Linked DNA regions of Homo sapiens: region 2 is linked to region 1. The links come from fine-mapping of genetic effects on gene expression. A gene starts in region 1. The other region holds a variant in brackets. All regions are shown on one strand. Distances are between the middles of the regions.

Region 1 (5,386 bases):
AACTTAGCTGGGCATGATGGCACGTGCCTGTATTCCCAGCTACTCAGGAGGCTGAGGCAGGAGAATTGCTTGAACCGGGACCCGAGGGGCGGAGGTTGCAGTGAGCCAAGATCATGTCACTGCACTCCAGCCTGGGCTACAGAGCAAGACTCCGTCTCAAAAAAAAAAAGAATCAAACAAGACCCATACTGTCAGATATTCAAGTACATTAAACATACACACAAACATAAAAACAGTAACAACAAATTTGTTTATAATTATCTGAGCCTAGAGTTTAACCCCATATACAAGTAAAAACAAAAGTAATTTGTGTATGGTTTTAATATATACGGAATTTTCTAGGAATACAACTATTGCATAAAAAAAGCAAAGGTTTTTTTTTTTTGTTTTGAACTTTATCAAGAGTTATTCACCATTTCAGAAAATCACAATAGTGACAACACTTCCAATATTTAAGTCACTAACATATTTTCATTAGTCTTTAGAGGCCATTCATGATATATATGTACATTTTATACATATGTGCATTTACCATATATGCATTCATAATATATATTTATGCATGATATGTATGTATATATTGAATCCTTATTTTGCAATGTCAGACATAAAAAGTGTTGACCATATTCAGCTGAATATTATCTTTTTTTTTTTGAGACGAAGTCTTGCATTGTTGCCCAGGCTGGAGTTCAGTGGTGAAATCTCGGCTCACTGCAAGCTCCGCCTCCTGGGTTCACGCCATTCTCCTGCCTCAGCCTCCCGAGTAGCTGGGGCTACAGGCGCCTGCCACCACGCCCGGGTAATTTTTTGTACTTTTAGTAGAGACGGGGTTTCACCGTGTTAGCCAGGATGATCTCCCATCTCCTGACCTCGTGATCCGCCCGCCTCAGCCTCCCGAAGTGCTGGGATTACAGGCGTGAGCCACCGCCCCGGCCTTATCTTTTTTTGAGACAGGGTTTCATTCTGTCTCCCAGGTTGGAGTGCAGTGGCACAATCATAGCTCACTGTAATCTTGAATTTCTGGGCTCAAGTGATCCTCCTGCCTCTGTCTCACGGTAGCTGGTACTACAGGCATGCACCACTATGTCTGGCTAACTCTTTAAGTTTTTGTAGAGACAGGGTCTCACCATGTTGCCCAGGCTAGTCTCAAACTCCTAGCATCAAGCGATCCTGCAGCTTTGGCTTCCCAAAGTGCTGGGATTACAAGCTTGAGCTACCAACTGTGCCTGGCCCAGTCGAATATTATATGTCCTGTAAAACCAAACTCATTCGTTATAAATAGATACAAGCATCTGACTACTCAATTTTGTCATCTAATATAGACATGCCTGTGCAGCTACGTATTATAATACATATTATTTTCTAATAAATTACTTTCCTATTTTTCTCCTTTATATTACAGTTAGGTCATTAAGTAGATTATTTATCGTGTATGTAGATTATATTACCTATGAATTTCATGCTGGGATTGTAAAGGAGATGTTACAAAATATAGCAAGGTGAATAAAGGAAATATATTGGAGTTTGGGTTGACAGGGCTTGGATCAATGATTAAAGGGAGTGGATGAAGGAGTCAGGTATAATGTGTTGATTTCTGGCTTGGGCAACCAGGTGGATGGTGGCGCCATTCGCTAATACAGGCAATACAAAAGGAATAGTAGGTTTAAGGAGGGAAATGACGAGTTCAGTTTTGGAGATTTTTAGTTTGAGGTGCCTTGGGATGTGGAGGCATCCCATGGGTACTAGGATATACACCTCCGGGTTTAGGAGATAGGCTCAGGTCACAGGCAGACTGGGAAGCATCAACATATTAACTAATAACTGAAGTCAAAGGAAGTGTGAGATGGGCCAGGGAAAATGGACAGAGGGAGGAGGTACAAGGCCAGAGCCCTGGGACACATTTAATGTCCAATATATTTTTTTTTGAGACAGGGTCTTGCTGTGTTGCTCAGGCTGGAGTGCAGTGGTGCAATCATGGCTCACCACAGCCTCAATCTCCTGGGCCCAAGTGATCCTCCCACCTCAGCCTCCTGAGTAGCTGAGACTACAGGTGCATGCCACCACACTCAGCTAATTTTTAAATTTTTTTTGTAGAGATAGGGTCTCACTACGTTGCTGTGTTTGGTCTTGAACTTTTCAGCTCAAGCCATCCTCCCACTTTGGCCTCCTAAAGTGCTGGAATTACAGGCATGAGCTACTGTGCCCATCAAGTGCCCAGTACATTTAAAAGCTGGGCGGAGGAAGAGGTCTGCAGAGGAGCCTGAGATCAAGCACCCTTAGGAGAAGAAACAAAAGTAGAGTCTGAAGTCACAGAAGCTGATGGAAGAGTATTTTTCAACAATGGGAGAGAACCAGTCAAGATTGAGATATGTGAGATTAGAAAGTGGAGTTATAGCTGGCCTTGGCTAAAGGCATTTCTGGGAGTGGAAGCCAGACTGGAAGAGGATAAGAAGTGGGTGGGGGAGAGCCGAGTATGAGCGACTCTTTCTGGTAAGTTGCTGCGACAGGAGATAATGCTGGGTAGGTGGAGAACACAGGGACCGGAGGAGCTGAGGCGGAAGGATGGAGAGGCTTAAGCATGTGTTAACTGCCACTGGGAAGAAGTCGGCAATCACGGAAGCTACCGGAGGGTAAGAAAAAATTCATTCATTCAACAGTTGAGCGCCTCCCACGCGCCCGATCAGTATGGCCGCCCCCACTTGAAAACACGCGTGTGGGCCGCCCACGTCTGACAAGTTAATGCAAGGCTTTATAGTTAGGGGAAAGCGGTTCTCCTTGAGCTCTTTCTCCTAGCAGTTCCGATTCCGACCCTGACTCCAACAGACACCTTGCGGGAACGCAAACACCGCTCGAATTCATGACCCCAATAGAAAACTTAAGGCCGCAACTAAGTAACGGATCGCTGCGAAGGCCAAACTAGCCACGCCAACGCCCCCACTGGAGCCTCCCCAGCGCTCCGCCCCCGCTCGCGAGAACAGCGGCGACGGCGCGAGAAATCGCTTTCTGGTTAGCTCCGCCCCTTCCCTTTCTTTGTTTTCCTGTCCGACGATCTCGCGGGAGTTAGGCGACAAATCCCGCGAGCGCAGACCCGGGGCTGGCTCTGCTGCTCTCGCGATATTTGCGCGAGCCTGCTTCCTTCTTTCCTCCCTTGCCAGTCCGCCTGTCTTCCTCCCCGTCTTCCCTGCCCGGCCTCCCCCTTCTTCCCCCGCTGGCCCCCTCCCCGGAGGGATAATATGGTCTCCGGCGATGGACGCCCCAAAAGCAGGTCAGTTTCGGGCCTCCGAGCTGGGTCTGGCAGTTGGAAACGCGCGCTGCCTAGGCGCCGAATTCCTTGCTTTTCTCGCCTGGAGTCGCTCGGCAGGCGCCCAGGCCCTCGGGGCTCGGGTTGTGCTCCCCTCGGGGCCTGCCTGCTGGGCCGCCCTTTGAGCCTAGGCCGCGGAAGCTGGGGCTCCCGATCCCCACCCTCCTGCGCGACACCCGCAGGGCGGGCCACCCCACCGCTGGCCTTGACCCGCACCCCTCTCTCTCCGGTGGCCGCTGCCTGCTGCCAGCGGCTTCCTGGCCCCCGTCAGCAACACCAGGGGCAGGGAGAGGCCCACCGTCTTCTCCTGCCCGCCCCCCATTGGCGAGCGATGAAGGCGGGGGCCTGCGTCTCCGTGTTCGGGTCTCACGCAGCTAGATGTTGATTCCACGGTCCAGCCTAAGGCCCCTCAGTCTCTCTGTGCCTCTGGAAGCCGAATGAGGGGCAGTCAAGGTTGAACATTGGTCAGTCAGTTCTCCGACCATTTATTGCACCGCTGTCTCCTCCCCCGTCCACCTCCCTCTACAAAAAAAAAAAAAGAGAAAAAAATACTATTCATTCTGAAAATGGGCTGTGCTTATGTTTTCTCCTTTTGGATGAAAGCCTTAACAATGTTGAGGGTCCTGGCCACCCACCGCTATGAGTCTGCACAAAAGATCTGAAGGTTCTTTTCAACCTCAGGGCTGCCTCCCCGCCACTGCCCCCTAGAATGTTGGGAGCTGAGGCACGTTTAAATGAGACCTCTGGATCTTTGACTTAGTAGTTCAGCTTCAGTTCGTGCAAAACCAGAAGACTTGTCTCTTTCGGGTAGAATATGCTAATTTCCTAGAGATTCTGTTACTTTTATTTTCAGTACTAAGCCCTGGTAAGGACTTAACTGAGAAGTTTTTTTGTTTTGGTTTATTGAATGCTCTGTAAAAATCCGTCTTTTAGTTTTTTTTTTTAATCAGTCCCTCTAATGTTAATTGTGGAATTCACAAATTCCTGTCTCTGCAGTTTTCAAGACATGTCTTTCCAAAACGTCCCCGTGGATTATTTAAATCATTCTTATTGTCCCTTTCCAGGTATTCTTATCACATTTCAGGAGTGAATTATCTTACTAGTTTTTACTTGACAAATTATGGTTTAGAACTATGCTTTCCAGTGTGGTGGATACTAGCCCTGTGTGACTTTAAATTAATCAAAATTAAATAAATTAAAAATTCAGTTCCTCAGGCACGATAGCCACATTTCAGGTGCTCAATAGCCACACGTTGCTAATGGCTACTTTACTGGACAGCTCAAACATAGAATATTTTTACCATTGCAGAAAATTCTATTGGATAAAGCTAGTTTCCAGGTATTTTCAGCTGAATAAAATATTTTGTTGCTGCATTTAATGAAAATACAATTTTTTTTTCAGGATACGCCTTTGAGTACCTTATTGAAACATTAAATGACAGTTCACATAAGAAGTTCTTCGATGTATCTAAACTTGGCACCAAGTATGGTAATGTTGCTTTACATTTTCTTGGGTTTGTTTAGTCTCTAATAATGAAAATGCATTTGTCAAGCTGAGCTGAAGAAATTTTAAATGTATTTCCACCGTATTGTAACAGGTACACCTACACATACCTATACCATTTTAAAAACTCCTCCTGGGACAACTTCTGTTCAGGGAAGATGTAGGCCCACACCTTAACTTCTCATTTAAAAATCTAAGTTAATTAAGCACTAGTTTTTCCCCTCAAAGAAACCAATAATGCAGTTTTCAAACTTTTTTTTTTCTTGTTTTTGTGAAGACAGGGGTCTTGCTATGTTACCCAGGCTAGTTTTGAACCCCTGGGCCCAAATAATCCTCCCACCTCTGCCTCCCCAAGTTTTGGGATTACACATGTAAGCTACTGCGCCTGGCCTAATGTGATTTTTAGAAGAACCTGACTGACTGATGATAATTCTACACCAATTAAATGTATATTTTATTTTCTCTTTTCTTTTCTTTTTTTTTTTGAGACAGAGTCTTGCTCTGTTGCCCAGGCTAGAGCACAGTGTTGTGATCATAGCTCATACAGCCTTGAACTCCTGGGCTAAAGCAGTCCTGCCTCT
Region 2 (5,386 bases), 36 kb after region 1:
AGTAGAGACGGGGTTTTGCCATGTTGGCCAGGCTGGTCTCGAGCTCTTGGCCTCAAGCCATCTGCCTGCCTTGGCCTCCCAAAGTGCTGCGATCACAGACATGAGCCACTCTGCCCAGCCACTTTAGTAGTTTCTAAAGGTTTTATAGTAGTAGAACGCTTTTGTTCCTCAAATGAAATCTTAATTGGAAACCCTATTGTGTAGAGAAAGATGAAAACAGTGGCTCTAGTTTAGGAGAGAGAGCTTGGAGGGAGGGCCTTGTACATTGAGCCTTTCTTCCTTCTCATTCCTGAGAATCTTTGGAACGCAGTTGAATACTGCCATTTGTCTGGACTTTTTGAACATTTTTATTTGACCTAAATTAATTTTGTCTTAATAAAAAATACATTTAGGTTCAGTATCTGTATATTTGTTTTTAACTATGTGATATGAACTTTGTATTTACCATATTGAACATTAGTTAAAATATTTTTAATGTTAATATTACACCTTGATTGTGAGCACAAATTTATATACTAACATTTGTATTTCTTAAATTTAAACAAAATATAGTGGAGTTCAAGAGTTTTTAAGAATGTGGCAGTGATCCCTCCTGGAACTGGAATGGCTCATCAAATAAACTTAGAATATTTGTCAAGAGTGGTTTTTGAAGAAAAAGACCTCCTCTTCCCAGACAGTGTAGTCGGCACAGATTCACACATAACGATGGTGAATGGTTTAGGGATTCTGGGGTGGGGTAAGTAAATGACTAAATATATTTCATTTCTTTTGGGGTAAGGATGTCAAGAACATTGTAAAAGAACATAAATTATTGAGTTTGTATAGCCTCTTTGAGGCTCTGTGTTTTTCATCTGTAATAACAGCAGCAACAACAAAATCCTAATTGAGAGTTTGTGATCAGTGTTGTAAAAGAGGATTTATGAGAAGAAATTTACACAGTGTCTAGCACAGCACTACTATTTGTGAAGTAATTGAATAATTGAATGATGATGATGATACGTCTACAAAGTTTGCTTCTTTGTGTAAGGTACTTTTGTGGCTTCTCCTGGTCTTCTTTATAAGTCCAGATTTCTTGCCATTTTATACAAGGCATGTCCCTTTAGCCACTCACCCACACCCATCTTAGAGAGACTAGTCATTTCTTTACTTACGTGGGCTGTCTCTTTTCTTTTTTTTTTCTTTTTCTTTTTTTTTTGGAGACAGCATCTTGCTCTGTCACCCAGGTTGGAGTGCAGTGGCACAATCTTGGCTCACTGCAGCCTCCACCTCCTGGGTTCAAGCAATTCTTGTGCCTCAACCTCCCAAGTAGCTGGGACTACAGGCACGTGCCACCACGCCCAGCTAATTTTTGTATTTTTAGTAGAGATACGGTTTTGCTATGCTGGCCTGGCTGGTTTTGAATTCCTAGCCTTAAGTGATCCACCCACCTCGACCTCCCAAAGTGCTGGGATTACAGGCGTGAGCCACTGAGCCCAGCTAGCTATGCTCTTTTATATGCCATGACTTTGCATAGGCTATTTCTTCTGGAAGAATGCTTTCTGCCGACCGTGACTTTGTTGAAATGTGGCTACTATTAACTCATCCAAGACTGGCCTCAGTTATCTTCTGAAAGTCTTAACTCCCTTGCTGAGTTCAGTGTACCTCACTTTGTAAGCTTACTCTTTCACAGGGTGTTATAAATGTTGATTTTTTTGTGCTTTTTCATTAGACTGAACTTGTTGAGGTTGGCAGGGACTGGATTCTGTTTATATCTGTATCTTGAATACAGTGCAGTGCCTAACATAATGAATACTTAAACTAATGTTTTAACTTGAATATACTTAAAACTAATATTTTACCTTGAATATAAAGGTAAAATAATAGTTTTTCGACCGTGCGAGTGGAATCATTTCTTTTGGGAAGCCTTGGGTTCAGTGTCCACATTAATAGCAATATAGCAACTCTGCAAAGTACTGTGTAAGATAAGCTCATGAAACACCTAGAGATTCAGATGTTACAGAGATAAATGATCTTTAAATATACTGTGCTAATATACCTGTCTTTATTACGTTAGGGGTTGGAGGCATTGAAACAGAAGCAGTTATGCTTGGTCTGCCAGTTTCTCTTACTTTACCAGAGGTGGTTGGATGTGAGTTAACTGGGTCATCAAACCCTTTTGTTACATCCATAGATGTTGTTCTTGGTATTACAAAGGTAAGTTAAAGTTGTGGTAGCTCTATGACTTACTGAACATTATTTTTATAAAAATTGAAGAGCTCTATGAGAGCAGGGATTTGGGTTCATTACTGCATCCTCAGGTCTCTTGACGTTAGCCACATCATCATAGTTATCATAGTAATAACAACAAACAGAGCATTTAGTTTGTACTAATAAATACAAAGAAATTTGTTGTGTTCACTTATGTTAGCTCATTTAGTCCTTATAACAAGCCTGTGAGATGGATACTATTACTATTCTCATTGTAACTCTGAGAAAACTAAGGTACAGTAGGGTTTAGTGACTTACCAAAGGGTCGAAGGCCTGAGTAGTAAGGGGTAGAGCAAAGATTCCAGGCAGTCAGATTCTTGAGTCCATTGTCTTAACCATTATGCCTTATTAGTGCCTTGTTGCCTTAATAAACACTTGCTGACTACATTATTTTTTTTCTCTTTTTTACTTGAATTTAAAAAAAATGTTT[A/T]GCAAAAGTTGATTGTGTCGTCTTTAATTAAATTATTTGCCCATTAGAAACTGTTGCTCTACTAAGTAATGCTTTCAAAAACATGGACTGTAGAAATGTGATATATCATTTTTCTGTTGCCGTTTTAACATTTCTCTGGATTATTATGTAAAAATCTTCTCTCTGAATTTTTAAAATACTGGCTTCAGAACTTCAATACATACACTGAGCTTGTTAAGCATATTAATACACAGGCTCACGGATTTCCTAGTGAACAATAATTTGTAACTCTTCTTCCTAAATGTCTGGCCTTTGCTAACTTTATTTTAATGATTAAATCCTATTTTGTTAAATGAATGTACCTGGAAAATGTTCCACATATAATTCCAATTTGAGTCCCAATCTCAGCATTTTTGGTTAGATTATTGGTACGAAGGCTTTCCGGATACTCCAGTGTAAGGAAATGATAATGCCTCCCTCTCAGCATTTGGTATTGATCCTTCTTCCCTAATTAGAAAAGAATTTGGCATCTTAGAGAAATTATTGATTCAACGTATGATACCAAAAGATCAAGTAGTAAATTGGGAATTGCAGGATTATTCCTAGAGGAAAAGGAGTATCCCATTATGTTTTTACAGAAATCAATTCTTTACTTTAGACATCCTGAAAACTAACGCTGCTTTTTAGCCTTCTCTAGCTGTTTTTTCCTGACAATATTACTGTGTGTTTTTTGACATTTTAGTTTAATGTTAAAAAATTAATCTATTATATATGTTTACATTTATTGAATATATTATTACTTCTTTTTTGAGATCCTGTTCCATTTGTGATCCTTATAGGAATAATCCTGTATTGTTTTTTTGATGAGAGCAGCATTTGGTTTGTAATATCTAATCTGTGTTTCTTTCATCCTAAAAAATAAAACCATAGGCCGGGCGCGGTGGCTCACGCCTGTAATCCCAGCACTTTGGGAGGCCGAGGCGGGTGGATCATGAGGTCAGGAGATCGAGACCATCCTGGCTAACAAGGTGAAACCCCGTCTCTACTAAAAATACAAAAAATTAGCCGGGCGCGGTGGCGGGCGCCTGTAGTCCCAGCTTCTCGGGAGGCTGAGGCAGGAGAATGGCGTGAACCCGGGAGGCGGAGCTTGCAGTGAGCCGAGATTGCGCCACTGCAGTCCGCAGTCCGGCCTGGGCGACAGAGCGAGACTCTGTCTCAAAAAAAAAAAAAAAAAAAAAAAAACCATAAATGAGGAAACATCTTTACACTTAGGGTTTGAGTTTCTGTATCTATAAAAAAGGGTTTGGATTAAGTGATCCCTGGCACTTATAAAATGTTAGGGCTTAATATTATTCATAGATCGAGGATAGTTTCATTCTTAGTCGCCTCCTTAGTCACTCTTCCTATACCAATCTGAGACCATTTTACAATTTAGAAAAGACAAATAACTGGTTGGGTTACTTGATAGTATAATAACCAAGAAAAATAATTTTAGAAGGAATTAAGTTTGAAACCACATGTTAACAAATTCTACCAAAGTGGGATTTGCCTGTGATTAAAGATGCTGTAAACATTTGGGCCAGTAGTTATAATTTGAAAAATGTTTATAGCCAATATATAATTTTTTATTTAAATATACAGTTTCATCAGTCTATTAGTATTTCATTAAGTCTAAGATGCCATCAGTGGTTAGCAAACACCACTGTTTTATGCACTGCTAAGAAAGAATAAAGGGCTGTGTGCAGTGGCTCACACCTGTGGGACGCCAAGGCAGGAGCATCACTTGAGGCCAGAAGTTCAAGACCAACCTGGTCAACATTGTAAGACCCTGTCTCTACAAAAAAAAAAAAGTTAAAAATTAGCTGGGTGCGGTGGCACATGCCTGTAGTTCCAGCTACTCTGGAGGCTAAGGTGGGAGGATTGCTAGAGCCACGGTGTTGGAAGCTGCAGTGAGCTGTGACCACACCACTGCGCTCCAGCCTGGGCAACAGAGTGAGACCCTGTTTCTAAAAGAAAGAAAGAAAAAGGGCTGCCACCTAAACAGACACACTATTGAGTTGAGGTACCCTGATTTCAAAGACATGAAAATGTTAATTATAGCCACCTTGAGCTTTCAGGCCCCTTTCTACCCTGATTAACAGTGACATTGGACCAGTCTTCTCTTTACTTCTTATCTTAAAATACCCCCAAAACCAGAATGAGTTGATTCATAAGGACAATGAAGGATCTCATTCCTTCACCATCACTAGTATTGGTTAAAAATTTTATTTTATAGTTTTCAGACAATCGTTGCTAATCTTATCTTTGCAATTTTGTATGTGTTTCTGTGTATTCCTTATATAGCACCTCAGGCAAGTAGGAGTGGCTGGAAAGTTTGTTGAGTTTTTTGGAAGTGGAGTTTCACAATTATCTATAGTTGATCGAACTACAATAGCAAACATGTGTCCGGAATATGGTGCTATCCTCAGCTTTTTCCCTGTTGACAATGTGACATTAAAACATTTAGAACATACAGGTAAGAAGATAAAAGATCACTAGAATAAACATGTTACATTTCCAATGTGTTTGATAATATTTTATAAATTACTACCTTATCCATGTTATTTACTATTCACAAAATTACATTATGTTGAAACAACAACTTTCAAGCAAACATCAGATGTCTTTAAAGAGTGTTGTGTCCTCAAACCCTAGTTCCCTGTGACACATTGAAAGCAATTTAAAGGAATT

What was found. PIP is the estimated chance that this variant, and not a neighbour inherited with it, causes the effect. A credible set is the group of variants that fine-mapping cannot tell apart.
Region 2: its variant is the best candidate, but not a certain one, in a credible set for the expression of IREB2 in thyroid (GTEx, PIP 0.67).

The regions. Positions count from the first base shown.
Region 1 is chr15:78,435,092-78,440,477 of GRCh38, forward strand. IREB2 (iron responsive element binding protein 2) reads left to right here and starts at 3,125. Exons shown (of 22, transcript NM_004136.4): 1 at 3,125-3,265; 2 at 4,704-4,790. The coding sequence starts at 3,247. RefSeq lists enhancers at 2,660-2,739, 2,810-2,869 and a silencer at 3,340-3,579.
Region 2 is chr15:78,471,189-78,476,574 of GRCh38, forward strand. It overlaps IREB2 (iron responsive element binding protein 2), which reads left to right. Exons shown (of 22, transcript NM_004136.4): 7 at 553-736; 8 at 2,054-2,193; 9 at 5,000-5,171. Among named protein-coding and RNA genes, the nearest start is that of HYKK, 34 kb to the right of the region's middle. The variant A/T (reference allele first, on the strand shown) is at 2,678.